4 linked regions of the Homo sapiens genome follow. The protein of the gene in region 2 purifies or fractionates together with the protein of the main gene of each other region. This does not show direct contact. Each region holds a gene or a part of one and is shown on either strand. Other genes may lie near its edges.

Region 1 (3,500 bases), on a different chromosome or scaffold from region 2:
CTGGTAATGAAACTTAATGTGATCAATAATCAAAATAGAGTAAAAATGACTATCTTGAGATACTACTGAAAATTATTCAAAAATATGTCTTATAGTATATACTAGTAGTAGTTAAGTTGATTTAGGAAAATTGTCAATTGATAATTTTAAAAGGTTAAAATCTATAATTAATGTTTTTCCCATAGATAGAAACAGGTCAAGATTGTTAAGGCCATGACTTAACTCTGGTTCTTTTTCTTTTTCTTTTTTTGGAGACAGCGTTTGTCACTTTGTTACCCAGGCTGGAGTGCAGTGACTCACTGCAATTTTGATCTCCCCGGCTCAAGCAATCCTCCCGCCTCAGTCCCCCAAGTAGCTGGGACTACAAGCGCGGGTCACCACACCCAGCTAATTTTTGTATATTTTGTAGAGAGAGGGGTTTGCCATGTTGCCTGTGCTGGTCTCAAACTCCTGAACTCAAGCAGTCAACTTGCCGTGGCCTCTCAAAGTGCTGGGATTACAGGTGTGATTCATTTTTTTTTTTTTTTTTTTTTTTTTTCATTTTTTTTCATTTTTTGAGATGGAGTCTTGCTGTGTCGTCCAGACTGGGGTGCAGTGGTGCGATCTTGGCTCACTGCAACCTCTGCCTCCAGGGTTCAAGCAATTCTCCTGCCTCAGCCTCCCTAGTAGTTGGGATTACAAGTATGCGCCACCACGCCTGGCTAATTTTTGTATTTTTAGTAGAGATGGGGTTTCACAATGTTGACCAGGCTGGTCTCAAACTCCTGACCTCAGGCAGTCCTCCTGCCTGGCCTCCCAAAGTCCTGGGGTTACAGGCATGAGCCATTGGGCCTGGCCTACCCTGATTCTTAAGAAAGCATTTTCTTTCTTTCATATTATAAAGTAGTTATGTGTAGGTTTATTTAGTTAGGAATTCCAGCTGTTCAGAGATGGCAAAACAAAAAAAAAAAGCAAGATCCAGTACCATGGCTCATGCCTGCAATCCCAACACTGTAAGAGGCTAAGGCAGGCGGATCACTTGAGGCCAGGAGTTCGAGACCAGCCTGGGCAATATGGCAAAACCCTCATCTCTACTAAACAAAAATTAGCCGGGTATGCCTGTAATCCCACCTACTCAGGAGGTGGAGGTTGCAGTGAGTCAGGATCGTGCCACTGCACTCCAGCCTTGGGCAACAGAGCAAGGCTCTCAAAATAAAAAAGCAGCGGCTGCATTTTATGCCTTTCAAATGCTGCAGGAAATAGAAATGGCTTAAGTTCAGTAAGAGAATTGACAATTCAGTGTTTTTGAGAAGTGGCAATGAAAGGGAGGAAAATGTTTATTGATTTTAGCCTGTTTCCCCAAAAGGATAAGAAACTATTTGGAAGTGAAAAAGAAGGGCCTCTTATTTTCTGTTGGTTCAGATTTCAAAGGTGTGAAAACTATTCTTTTTCCCTTACTGTGACATTAAATCACTTCAGGCTTGTACCATTTTGTATGGCCTGTTGTTAAGTTGGACATGACAATTTGTAAAATGTGAGGATCTTTTCCTTTCTTGTAAGTTAGAAGAAATAACCTCTTCAGTTAAACCTTCAGTGAAGGTTCTTTTAGTTTTCTGTTCTGCTTTCTAAAAACATAGACTCTGTTCTTTAGAGCAACTTATGACTCTCATCTCTGCTGCACGAGAATATGAGATAGAGTTCATCTATGCGATCTCACCTGGATTGGATATCACTTTTTCTAACCCCAAGGAAGTATCCACATTGAAACGTAAATTGGACCAGGTAACTCCTTACTTTTTATTCATTTTTCCTGACTATGTACTTGAAACTAGAAGTTTACTCAGTTGCTTTTACGATGTTAAAAGGAAATCAAATTCCTATTTCTTTGTTTTCTTTTTTTGTTTGTTTGTTTTGTTTTTTGAGACAGAGTCTTGCTCTGTCGCCCAGACTGGAGTGCAGTGGCACAATCTCGGCTCACTGCAACCTCCTCCGCCTCCCGGGTTCAAGTGATTCTCCTGCCTCAGCTTCCCGAGTAGCTGGGACTATAGGTGCGTGCCATCATGCCTGGCTAATTTTTGTATTTTTAGTAGAGACAGGGCCTTCACCATGCCAGCCAGGCTGGTCTCGAACTGCTCACCTCATGATCTTCCCAAAGTGCTGGGATTACAGGTGTGAGTCACCATGCCTGGTTTTTTATTTCTTTGTTTCTATAAGAATTTTTTTTACTTTGAATGCTTTTTTTTTCTTTTTTTTTTTTTTTGAGACAGAGTCTTGCCCTGTTGCCTGGAGTGCAGTGGCCCAATCTCGGCTCACTGCAACCTCCACCTCCCAAGTTCAAGCGATTCTCATGCCTCAGCCTCCTGAGTAGCTGTTACAGGCACACCACCATGCCTGGCTAATTTTTATATTTTTAGTAGAGACAGGGTTTTGCCACGTTGGCCAGGCTGGTCTCGAACTCCTGACTTTAGGTGATTCACCCACTTCAGCCTCCCAGAGTGCCGGGATTACAGTCGTGCGCCAGTGCACCCAGCCTTGAATCCTTCTGATAGAGGAATATTTTCCAAATTAAGTAAAAAGAGCTTTACTGGAGGTACTAGTTCTTCTCAAATTTCAGTTTGCATAAGAACTGCCTTAAAAGAATGATTAGAAGTGAAGCTTGGAAGAATGCTGACTGCTGGACTTTATTTCCCAAATGGATAAGGTGGGGACCGGGAATCTAGGTGATTGGTGGTCAAGAACCACATTTTGAGAAATTATATATACCCTAGGCTGCTTGGCTTGAATTTACACCTGAGATTACAGAAACAGGGTTTTACCTATTAGACATTAGTTTCTTCAATTATATGGACGAAGAGATGTCTGGAAATGGCTAGTTTCCCAAGATGAGAAGAAAAACAGACTAGGTGAACCTAATTGAGTGTAAAGTCTGCTTAATGTAAAAGCTGCAGACTTCCTTTGGTCCAATGTAGGGGGCTTCCATTTTCCTTTTTTTTTTTGAAACTGAGTCTTGCTCTGTCGCCCAGGCTGGAGTGCAGTGGCGCGATCTCAGCTCATTGCAACCTCTACCTCCTGGGTTCAAGCAATTCTCTGGCCTCAGCCTCCTGAGTAACGGGGATTACAGGCATGTGCTACCACACCTGGCTAATTTTTTTGTATTTTTAGTAGAGATGGGGTTTCACCATGTTTGCCAGGCTGGTCTCGAACTCCTAACCTCATGGTTTGCCCGCCTCGGCCTCCCAAAGTGCTGGGATTACAAGTGTGAGCCACTGCGCCCGGCCCCATTTTTCTGTTATTTTAGTTTGCTGGTTTTTCTATATACATGTCTTATTTCTTTAGGCAAAGATTTATATGGGTGGCATTAAAATGTCTGGTAAAAAATTTAAGGCAGTTGAAATTTTCATGAATGAAGTTATTTTACTATTTGATAAAATTCTATTCTTTCTGATTCATACCTGGTTAGGTTTATCTGCAAAGGGATCAGTGTGCCTTTTGGGACTAGGACACAGCCTGGCTTTTTCATG
Region 2 (3,965 bases):
TCCATCCTAGGATGTCCCTATTCAGCTCTGCCCTCCTTCCCACGGGGCAGTTGGACCTTTCTCCATTCACTTCTCCCTGCAGTTTCTCCCTAGAACACAAACCCACCCCACCCCCTCCACCACCCCAGGCTCCCTATCCCTTCTCCCCAGAAAAACTGCAAGTGCTCTCACCCTGGTGACCCTGCCCTCACTGATTCAAGCTCGTCACTTTAGGCTCTCCCACTGGATGGGCTGGGGCAGGTCACACTCAGGAAAGGAAGGAAAGAAAAGGGGGTTGGAAACTCAGAGCCCAAGGGAAGGGAGAATGAGCAGCCTGGCACACCCTGAAAGAGACACACCCAGAGACAGCCTTTGCTGGGGCAGGATCTTTTGGGCTCAAAATGGAAAAGGAGGGCTCTGAGAAGGAAGGGTGTATGTGCAGAGCGAGGAAGGGTGGTGGCAGGAATTAACAAGAAAGAATAGAGGAAGACAAGAAAACAGGGGTATAAAAAAGAAAGAGACCAGAGTCCAGAGAAAATTGACAAGTGGACTTCTAAGAAGTCTGGCTTGGCTGCTTCCCTACCTGTTTGTGGTGTCTTTCGGGGGACCCCTTGGCAAGGCAGCTGCGGCTGAGACGGAGGTAGCCCCCCAGAACCAAGATCTCCTCGGCAGTTGGGTACCGCTTCTTCCCAGCCCCCGGGACTGCAGCATCAACTGTGGCTGGAGAGGTTGGGGTGGCTGGGGTCGCAGGGGGCACAGACCGCCGGGGGTTGACGGTGAAGGTGTGTCCACTGCGGCGGGGGGCCCCCACCCCTGGCCCTGCCTTCACCCCATAGAACAGGCGGCTCATGAGGGGATCCCCAGGAGGTTGGGGGGCAGTTGGGGCTGGGGGTGGGGGAGACAGAGGGGCTGGTGGTGGGGGCTGGAGCTCCACTGCTTCCTCTTCCTGCTGTCTCAGGCCTCCAGTCCCAGCGTCCTCTGGTGGGAGGGGGGAGGGCACAGAGCAGCAGTTCTGCAGGGCTCTCAGAGGCCTGCCCTGAGCCCCCGCCTCCTCCTTCTCAGCCTCCCCTTCTCCAGCCTCCACACCGGGAGATTCCAGAAGCTTCTCTGCTGACTCTGGAGGTTCTGGTTTCTGAGTTTGAGCCTCTATGTCCCTGGGTGTCCATTCTCGAGCCTTCCCGGAGTTCAGGGTCCATTTCCACCCTTCTGTTGGCTTCATGCCCCTCTCGCCATCTTCCACAGGCCTCTGCTCTGCTGCCTCCACTCCTGCGGAACTGTTGCCTTGGGCCTCCCTTGTCAGGGTCTCGGACAGCTCTGCAGTCTCTTTTGGAGCTACCCCTGGAACTGGCCACTCTTCTTTTCTCCCACATTCTTCCGAGTAGTCTTGTCTTTCTTCTCCTGACCTCAGCCTCCACTCTGTTGCCTCCAGTTGTACCAAACTCTGTTCCTGAGACTCTCTGGAGTCAGGTCTCCATTTATGGGCCTCTGTCAGGCCCAACTTCTGGTAGGCAGATTCCCCTGGGCTCAGTCTACTTTCCACCTCTTTTCTCCTGGGGCTTTGCTCTCGAGACTCTGCTAGTCTCAGACTCCGCTCTGGAGTTTCTCCAGGACTCAGCCTCCATTTCCATGCCTCTGACAGTCGGGAGCTCCTGTCTCCCACCTCTCCTGGGCTTTGCCTCCAGTCCCGAGCCTCCAGAGGCCTCAGGCTCAACTCTTGGGCTCCCCCTATCCCCAGCCTCCTCTCTCTGGTCTCCCTCGGACTTAGTCTCTCTTCTCTTGACTCTCTTCCCTTGGGGCTCTGATCCCGCATCTCCCCAGGGCTGGGTCTCCGCTCCCGGGCCTCCAGAGGCCCAGGCTTTCTCTCTGCTAGCAGCTCTTCACTCCGTTGTTGTTGCTGCTGCTGCTGCTGCCGCTCCTGCCGGATGAATCGGTTCTGGTGCACTGGCCCGATGGCCTCCAGAAGGACCGCAGACTCATCCGGGTCTGGAGGTCCAGCCTCTACAGTCCCTAGCACAGGGCTAGGCTCCCCAGGGGACAGCCCAAGCTTGGCCCGGCGGCGCTCCAGGAGCCCTCGTTTCCAGGCTGGCATCTGGGACAGGCGCTCCCGTTCTGCTTTCTCTCGGCCTCGAACGGACGCCTCCTCCTGCCGGCGCCGGGCTAGCAGCTGTAGCTTCCAGTCTGGGATGGTGGCCATGGTCGTCTTGAGGTGAGGGTAGGGAGCACTGGGGACAGAGAACAGGAAGGAGAGGCTCCAGAGAGTGAGACAGCCCGGGGGTGAGACTGAGGGTGGGAGGAGAGGAAGTGGAGGGGGAGAGGTGGGACACAAAGCAGGGCAGAGGGGCTAAGGATGAGGACAGAGGGAAAGACGGAAGGCAGAGAACTGGGGAAATGGAAAAAGTGAAGAGAAGTTGTGAGCCCAAGTTGGGGGTGGTGGGGGTGATGTGAGAGGAAGAGTCCGGATTGGAGGCAATGAGGGCAGGAGCCAGATGTGGCAGCACAGGGTTAATGCGTATTAAAGACCGTCTCTAGGATGTGAGAAAGAGAGAGAAGGGCGAAAAGGAAAGTTGGCGTGAGGGAGAAGAGAGAAATGTGGCAGGGGTGAGGGGAACCTGGGTGCAGGCCAGGCTGCCTCAGCGATACCCCAGGGAGGCTAGTGTGGGAAGGAAGGACCAGGAATCCCTGAAAGGACCAGGAGGCAACGGGACCTGAGGGGGTGTTGGGGAGGCAAGGAGGGGCGGAGAGCGAACAGGTCTAGAGGAGAAGGGAAACCAGGGAAGAGGGGAAAGGAGGGCGGCGGCAGCAGCCGGGCGCGTCTCAGCGCGGGCCCCAAAGGTCCCGGCTCCGCTTCCAGCACCGCTCGGGCCACGCCTCTCCCCAGCCCCCACCCCTCTGCCCCGCACTCCGCCCCCGAGGCGGGTCGGGGGAAATAGCCACCCCCGAGACTTTCGGAACCCGGGCGTCAGGGCTGCCAGCGCGTTCCCAGAACCCTGGCGTCCACCCCCACCCTGTCCTGTCACCACCGCCTGCCTCCCCCACCGACTGCCCCACGCGACCCCAGAGTGCCAAGGGCCGGCTCCATGTCTCTTCTCCCCGGCGCCTGCAAGTCCTGCGCCCCGTCCCCGCTCTCATGAAGCCGTGACAGAGCCGGCCGTCTCCACCCCGCTGTAGCCGCACAGACTGACAATCTCGGCACAAAGAGGAGACAGCCAAGGTCCGGGCCAGGGACGGGAGCAAGGACAGGGGCGAGGAGACACCCACTCCCCAAGTCTGAGCCCCTCAGTCAACTCACAGGCCGCGGGACCCCCGGGGGAGGGGGTGCGGAGGAGCCGGGCGTCCAGAGAGAGGAAGAGGAGGAGAGAGGGACCGAGGGAGATCCGGAGACTGGAGGGAGGGGAGGAGGGAGGGAGAGGAGGAGGGAAAGAGGCAGCAAAGGAGGAGGGACGGAGACAGAGACCAGGGGGCCGGGCGGGGGCGGCGACCGCTTTGTCTAAGGACAATGAGGAGAGGGAAGGGGGCGCAGGGCGGAGCCGAGGAGAGGGCGGGGCCTAGATCCCTCCCACCCCGCGTGGGACTCGCTGCGGGACTGCCCTCTTCTCGCCCCAACCACTGGTCCTCCGCTCTGTCCCCAGGGGCCCTCACCAGCTTCCCGCCCGGACACGCCAGGTGTCCAGATCCCTTCCCCCAGCTCGCCGACCCAGGGCGGTGGCCCGTGACTCAGGCCCCTCGTGGGACTTTGGGAGGAAGCGGCAGCTGCTCCGAGCGGGGCCCGCCCTTCCCATCTCCTGCCGCTCCTCCCTACGCTTTTGCCTTCTCATCTGGGTCTGTAGGTCCAGCCTCTGAAGTCCTTTGTTTTGCGGGGTCGAGGGCAGCCGCCAGGCTGTGGGGGGCTTTGTGGATGGGCGGCAGGAGAGGCGCTCAGAAGCCAGAGGTTTTGGATGCTCCCTCCCCTACCAGAGCTGCTGCCCCGACTCTTTCTAGCTTCAACC
Region 3 (3,500 bases), on a different chromosome or scaffold from region 2:
GGTGAAACCTCATCTCTACTAAAAATACAAAAAAATTAGCTGGGCATGGTGGCGGGCGCCTGTAGTCCCAGCTACTCGGGAGGCTGAGGCAGGAGAATGGCGTGAACCCAGGAGACAGAGCTTGCAGTGAGCCGAGATCGCGCCACTGGAGTCCAGCCTGGGCGACAGAGAGAGACTCCGACAAAAAAAAAAAAGTTTATTAAAAAAATTTATTTTGGAGACAGGGCCTTTGTGTGTCACCCAGGCTGGTGATGGTACAGTGGTGCCATCATAGCTCACGGAAGCCTCGACCTCCTGAGCTCAAGAGATCCTCCTGCCTCAGTCTCCCGAGTAGCTGGGACCACAGGTGCACACCACCACGCCCGGCTTTTTTTTCTTTCTTTTTTTTTTTTTTTGAGACAGAGTCTTGCTCTGTCTCCCTGGCTGGAGTGCAATGGAACGATCTTGGCTCACCGCAACCTCTGCCTTCCGGGTTCAAACGATTCCCCTGCCTCAGCCTCCTGAGTAGCTGGGATTACAGGCGTGCGCCACCACACCCGGCTAATTTTGTATTTTTAGTACATACAGGGTTTCTCCATGTTGGTCAGGTTGGTCTTGAACTCCCAACCTCAGGTGATCCACCCACCAAGGCCTCCCAAAGTGCTGGGATAACAGGCGTGAGCCACTGCGCCAGGCCTAATTTTTGGTAGAGACAGGATCTCACTATGTTGTCCAGGCTGGTCTCGAACTTTTGGCCTCAAGCAATTCTTCCACCTTGACCTCCCAAAGTGCTGGGATTATGAGAGTCAGCCGCACGCCTGGCGGGGATCTTCTTTCTACAATGGAATCTCCTTAATGAAGACAGTGCTTTCCTCCAACTTTGAATAAAGTGAACTATTCCCTATTTCCTCCTCCATTGGACTCTTTCTCAGCCATCTACTCTCCCTCTCCTGTGAATCTCTACTCTGGAACCTTGAGGGACCACGCCCCACTAGAGTACTTGAGGCTAGCGCGCCCCGGGCCTTCTGGGAGTTGTAGTTTTGTTGCTCACCCACCAACAGATGGGGTATAGGGCTCTGGGCGTGCGGGGCTGGGGCGGCGGTTACCTGGGCGTCCTGGTAGCCCTGGAGCAGCAGGAAGTAGGGGCGGTTGCTGGGGGCCTGGATGAGGCACTGAGTCAACTGATCGAAGTCCCCGGGGTCTGCAGTTCCGATTTGGGCGTCGGCTGCCCCTGGGGCCATGCTAAGTGCCTGCTGTCTCCGCTCCTGCTGCCGCCGCCGCCGCCCCTGAAGGCTAAGCTCCGACACGCTGCGCCGCAAAGACAAGTTTTCTGAGCGCTCCTTGCCTCCAGACCCAGCTGGGGCCCCTGATCCGGTCCCCGGGCCAGGACTGGCCAGCGCTGCCCCACCCGACGCCGCCCGGGAGCGGTTCTTCTGTGGCCGCCACGAAGGGGCGCCGGTGCCTGCGGAGAGATGGAGAACAGTGAGGCTGAGCCTGGAAAGACAGGGATAGACACAGAGCTGCAGATTATGAGACAAAGAACTGGTTGCAGAGAGGTGAGGCTGCTTCCCACATTTAGGATTTAGGCTTTTGCATATTCTGTTCCCTGTGCGTGGAACACCTTTCTGTCCTGATTAATACCCATCTTGCAGTTTTCAGCTCAGGAATTTCATTCATTCTTTTCCATTGAATCATTTGTTCTTCTTTTTTTTTTTTTTTATTTCAATACGTAGTCTCGCTCTGTCGCCCAGGCTGGAGTGCAGTGGCACGATCTCGGCTCACTGCAACCTCTGCCTCCCAGGTTCAAGCAATTCTCCTGCCTCAGCCTCCCAAGTAGCTGGGATTACAGGCGCGCACCACAACGCCCGGTTAATTTTTGTATTTTTAGTATAGATGGGTTTTCACCATGTTGGCCAGGCTGGTCTCGGACTGGTCGGTCTCGAACTCCTGACCTTGTGATCCTCCCGTCTCAGCCTCCCAAAGTGCTGGGATTACAGGCATGAGCCACAGCGCCCAGCCCATTTGTTCTTTTAACAAGTATTTAGGCCGGGTGCGGTGGCTCACGCGTGTAATCCCAGCACTTTGGGAGGCTGAGGCGGGCGGATCACAAGGTCAGGAGATCGAGACCATCTTGGCTAACACGGTGAAACCCCGTCTCTACTAAAAATACAAAAAATGTGGCAGGTGCCTGTAGTCCCAGCTACTCGGGAGGCTGAGGCAGGAGAATGGCGTGAACCCGGGAGGCGGAGCTTGCAGTGAGCCGAGATCGTGCCACTGCACTCTAGCCTGGGCGACAGAGCAAGACTCCGTCTCAAAAAACAAAACAAAACAAAACAAGTATTTATTGACTACCTACTACATGCTTAGAACTGTTCAAGTCACTGGATAACAGAGAAGACCCTGCCCTCCAGGAGATTGAAACCACCTCTTCCTAAACACCCTTCCCTGACAGTCCAAGTTGAAGCAGGTGACTGCACCACTGGGTACTCTGAGCTTTTTCTGGACCCAGCTGGAACCCTGGCACACAGTAGGCACCAAGGGGAAATGAGCTGAATGAATGGACTGATGTGTTTCCCACTAGGCTTGTGAGATATGGGAGGGTGGAAACCTCATCTGTCAACGTCCCCACTGTATTCCCCAGTGCCCCGAAAACTGTGTGGCCAGGCTGGGCGCGGTGGCTCACGCCTGTAATCCCAGTACTTTGGGAGGCTGAGGTGGGTGGATCACTTGAGGTCAGGAATTCGAGACCAGCCTGACCAACATGGCGAAACCCCCATCTCTACTCAAAATACAAAAAATCAGCCAGGCGTGGTAGTGGGCACCTGTAATCCCAGCTATTCGGGAGGCTGAGGCAGGAGAATTGCTTGAACCGGGAGGTGGAGGTCGCAGTGAGCCATGATCGTGCCACTGCACTCCAGCCTGGGCAACAGAGCAAGACTCCATCTCGAACAACAACGACAACAACAACAAAAAAACAAAAAGGAAAATGTGTGGCCTACACCAGGTGCTCAATGGATACTTTGTCGAGGGGGTGGCGGAGACAATGCTTATAATCGTCATTCTTTATTAAGCACCTACTCTGTGCCAAGCCCTGTGCTAGGCCCTTTATATACATTGAATATATTATCCCATTGAATCCTCACCTAGGATTTTACTGAGATTAACTGGCACAGAATGGGTTGGAATTCAAACCCCAGTTCAAAGCCCATCAGTTGAATTGCTACAACATTCTATCTCCCAAAAGGAAGCTCAGATACAGAAAAGCGTTTAGAAGGCTCCCTGAGCAGACCCGTGCTTTCAATGCGCCAGGCCCCACCCCTGCCAGGCGCGGTCCACCACCAGCTGTTTGACCATTGACTCTACCTTCTGTTCCAGGCCTTCCTTCGCCTCTACAGTGATATCTTCCTTCAGCCCCTTCCTTTCCCATGTGATCCCACTTGGCAGCCAACCCAGCCTAAGGCCGTCTTATCCAAGGCCGGCCCCTCAGCGGCTCCGCCCATCTTAGTCCCAGCAGGCCTGAT
Region 4 (3,500 bases), on a different chromosome or scaffold from region 2:
GCCCGGGAGTGGGGGTGACTGGCGCAGCAACTTCTCTCGTTCCTGGAGAGAGGCCACAATGTGGCGCGACAGATTGTCGTAACGGACTGGTGAGGGCTCTCGGTGTGTTGGGCCAGTTGGCACCAAACGTGGGTGCCTCTCAGCTTCCCGTTGCTGGGCCAGCCTGGCTGACAGGAAGGGAGAGGTATAGCCTAAAGGTGGGTCTGGCTCAGGCCCTGCCTGCACTGACTCAAAATCAGGGCTGTCTGAAGGTGTGAGCAAGCTGTCATAAGATAGGCTTCCATTGCGTGTCTGGTTGGCCAGGCTCTTATAGGAGGTGGAGGTGGTGCCCTCTGAACGAATGGATTGCAACTGGCCCAGCTCAAAGCCTGTGCCCTGGGCTGACTTGAGGCTGGAGGAGCGTGAGCCACTGGATAGTGGATCGAAGTGAAAACTTTTGCCAAAGGTAGGAGAACGGAAGCTCTCTGGTTCCAAGCTGGGCTCTGAGCGGTAGCTGGGGTGACGGCTGCTCTCTGCAATTGAGGTTGGCTCCTTCAAGCTGTCCCCACGACTCAACTGAGGAAGAAAGTAAAGCAGGCTCTTAGTGCTCCTTTTGTGACAGAAGCTAGACCCCAGAGCTCAAGGAGTTGGTCAAAAAGAGAATTATGTGCCAATAATAAGCTTAGAACTCTTACATGCATTATCTGGGTTAATCCCTCAAGAAAAACTGAATTCAGGCAAATATCATCTCCTTTTCAGATACAGAAAGCAAGACGTAGAAAGGCTGAGTATCTCGCCCGTGGGCAGAACTGGGTTATAAACTCGGATCAAGCACTAATCTATTATGCTATATTGCCCAGTCTGATGAAGGACACAGTATCAAGGAGATTGAGTTCCACGAATGCCAACAATTAGTGAAATGTCCTTTCTTCTGCCTTTTCCTTCCCCTAATCTTCTTTTTTTCCCGTAACAGTTGGCATTTGTTTGTGTGTGTGTGTGTGTGTGTGTGTGTGTGTTTTAAGCCCAGGCTGGAGCGTGATGGTGCAATCTTGGCTCACTGCAACCTCAGCCTCCCAGGTTCAAACGATTCTCCTGCCTCAGCTTCCCGAGTAGCTGGGATTACAGGCGCCCCGCCACCACGCCCAGCTAATTTTTGTATTTTTAGTAGAGACAGGGTTTCACCAAGTTGGCCAGGCTGGTCTCAAACTCCTGACCTCGGGTGGTCCGTCTGCCTCAGCCTCCCCAAGTGCTGGGATTACAGGCTTGAGCCACTGTGCTTGGCCTTTTTTTTTTTTTTTTTTTTTTTGAGGTGTAGTCTCACTCTGTCACCAGACTGGAATACAGCAGTGGGAGCTCAGCTCACTGCAGCCTCCACCTCCCAGGTTCAAGCAATTCTCCTCCCAGGTTCAAGCGATTCTCCTTGCCTCAGCCTGCCAAGTAGCTGGGACTACAGATGCATACCACTACCAGCTAATTTTTTTTTTTTTTTTTTGAGATGGACTCTCACTCTGTCACCCAGACTGGAGTGCAGTGGCGCAATCTCGACTCACTGCCACCTCCACCTCCCAGATTCAAGTGATTCTCCTGCCTCAGCCTCCCGAATAGCTGGGATTACAGGTGCCCCCCCACCACGCCCAGATAATTTTTGTATTTATTTATTTATTTTTTTTTTGAGATGCGGTCTCGCTCTGCTGCCCAGGCTGGAGTGCAGTGGCATGATCTCGGCTAACTGCAAGCTCCGCTTCCTGGGTTCACGCCATTCTCCTGGCTCAGCCTCCCGAGTAGCTGGGACTACAGGCACCTGCCACCATGCCTGGCTAATTTTTTTGTATTTTTAGTAGAGACGGGGTTTCACCATGTTAGCCAGGATGGTCTCAATCTCCTGACCTCGTGATTCACCTGCCTCAGCCTCCCAAAGTGCTGGGATTACAGGCGTGAGCCACTGTGCCCGGCAATTTTTGTATTTTTAGTAGAGATGGGGTTTCACCACATTAGCCAGGCTGGTCTCGAACTCCTGACCTTGTGATCCACCAGTCTCGGCCTCCCAAAGTGCTGGGATTACAGGCGTGAGCCACCACGCCTGGCCTAATTTTTGTATTTTTAGTAGAGACGGGGTTTCACCATGTTGGCCAGGACGGTCTCAATCTCTTGACCTTGTGATCCACCCACCTTGGGCTCCCAAAGTGCTGGGATTACAGGAATGAGCCACTGTGCCTGGCCAGTTGGCATGTTATTACCCCACCTCTTAGAGTACTCAGTACCTTGGCGCTGGAGGAATGCGGCATGGCAGCTGACGTACTGCTGCTACTGTAACCCGGCCGATACTTGTACATGGTAGGTGTCGGGGGGCTGTCCTTGGCCAATAAGCTACTATCTGCAAGAAAAAAGGCCAAGGGGGCACTATTTTACAAGCGGTTTTTTGGTTTAAGAGACAGGGTCTCACTCTACTGTCCAAGCTAGAGTGCAGTGGCACGATTATAGCTCACTGGAGCCTTGAACTCCTGGGCTCCCACCTCAGCCTCCTGAGTAGCTGGGACTGCAGGCATATGCCACCATGCCCAGCTAACTTTTTTAAATTTTTTGTAGAGACAGAGTCTTGCTATGTTGCCCAGGGTGGTCTTGAACTCCTGGGCTCAAGCAATCCTCCTGCGTTGGCCTCCCAAAGTGCTGGGATCACAGGTGTGAGCCACTGCGTCTAGTCTATGAGTTGTTCACTTTATCTGCCTAGGGTTCCTTAAGTACAGGGAGAGGACAAGGTAGGAATAGATATACCCTTCGCTGAAATCAAGACTTTTAAAGACTCACACCAGCCCAGAATTCAGGGTGGGTAAATGCACCAAAAAGGTTCTGTGATGTTCTCTGGTCTGCCTAGAGGCTGACCATTTTCCCGGCAAAAGTCCCATTCACTGCCAATAGCTAAATGGCCTCTCTTCTCTTTCAGTTGCAAAGTAGCACAAGTACCAACTGTTGGGTGTTTAAAGTCACAACACGAGTAATATCTCCCAGCCCTTGCCTGTCTTCCACAGCTCATAAGCAACCTTCTCAATCCTGCCCCTAGTTCTAGTATCTTGCAAATCAAGGCAGCCCTTACCCTCATTAGTAGCCAAGCCGAGGTGTGTTCGCAACCCTGTGTAACGGCTCAGGTCTGGCTTAGGAGGAGGTGGAGGTTCAGCATCTGCAGACTGGCTCTCTGTTATCTCCAGGCTTCCCTTAGACTGGATTGATGAAGGGAGGGAAAATCAGATTTAGAAATTGAGCATTATGGCAACTCAAAGTATTAAATTGATATAAGAGGGAGGTATTTGGGAGTCAATTCTCATGTATTTTTTTTTTTTTTTTGAGACAAGGTCTCACTCTGTTGACCAGGCTGGAGTACAGTGGTACGCATGATCATGTTCACTGCAGCCTGCAACTCCTAGGCTCAAGTGCTCTTCCCACCTCAGCCTCCCAAGTAGCTGGGATTACAGGCACATGCCACCACACCCAGTTAATTTATTTTACTTTATTTTGTAGAGATGGGG

The links. The genes of interacting proteins can lie anywhere in the genome.
Region 1: the proteins of PPP1R18 (region 2) and OGA purify together in Homo sapiens (affinity purification with mass spectrometry; 3 studies listed by BioGRID and IntAct, with this or other methods). This does not show direct contact.
Region 3: the proteins of PPP1R18 (region 2) and RASIP1 purify together in Homo sapiens (affinity purification with mass spectrometry; 3 studies listed by BioGRID and IntAct, with this or other methods). This does not show direct contact.
Region 4: the proteins of PPP1R18 (region 2) and ZDHHC5 purify together in Homo sapiens (co-immunoprecipitation; one large-scale study listed by IntAct). This does not show direct contact.

The regions. Positions count from the first base shown.
Region 1 is NC_000010.11:101,808,445-101,811,944, reverse strand, and holds part of OGA (protein O-GlcNAcase), read left to right. Parts: intron 1-1,630; coding exon 1,631-1,761; intron 1,762-3,500.
Region 2 is NC_000006.12:30,683,846-30,687,810, forward strand, and holds the start of PPP1R18 (phostensin), read right to left. Parts: upstream 2,801-3,965; 5' UTR 2,202-2,800; coding exon of another isoform or gene 2,174-2,201; coding exon 563-2,173; intron 1-562.
Region 3 is NC_000019.10:48,734,111-48,737,610, forward strand, and holds part of RASIP1 (ras-interacting protein 1), read right to left. Parts: intron 1,442-3,500; coding exon 1,086-1,441; intron 1-1,085. UniProt on the Homo sapiens protein: Required for the proper formation of vascular structures that develop via both vasculogenesis and angiogenesis.
Region 4 is NC_000011.10:57,695,614-57,699,113, reverse strand, and holds part of ZDHHC5 (palmitoyltransferase ZDHHC5), read right to left. Parts: intron 3,195-3,500; coding exon 3,071-3,194; intron 2,354-3,070; coding exon 2,241-2,353; intron 556-2,240; coding exon 1-555. UniProt on the Homo sapiens protein: Palmitoyltransferase that catalyzes the addition of palmitate onto various protein substrates such as CTNND2, CD36, GSDMD, NLRP3, NOD1, NOD2, STAT3 and S1PR1 thus plays a role in various biological processes including cell adhesion, inflammation, fatty acid uptake, bacterial sensing or cardiac functions.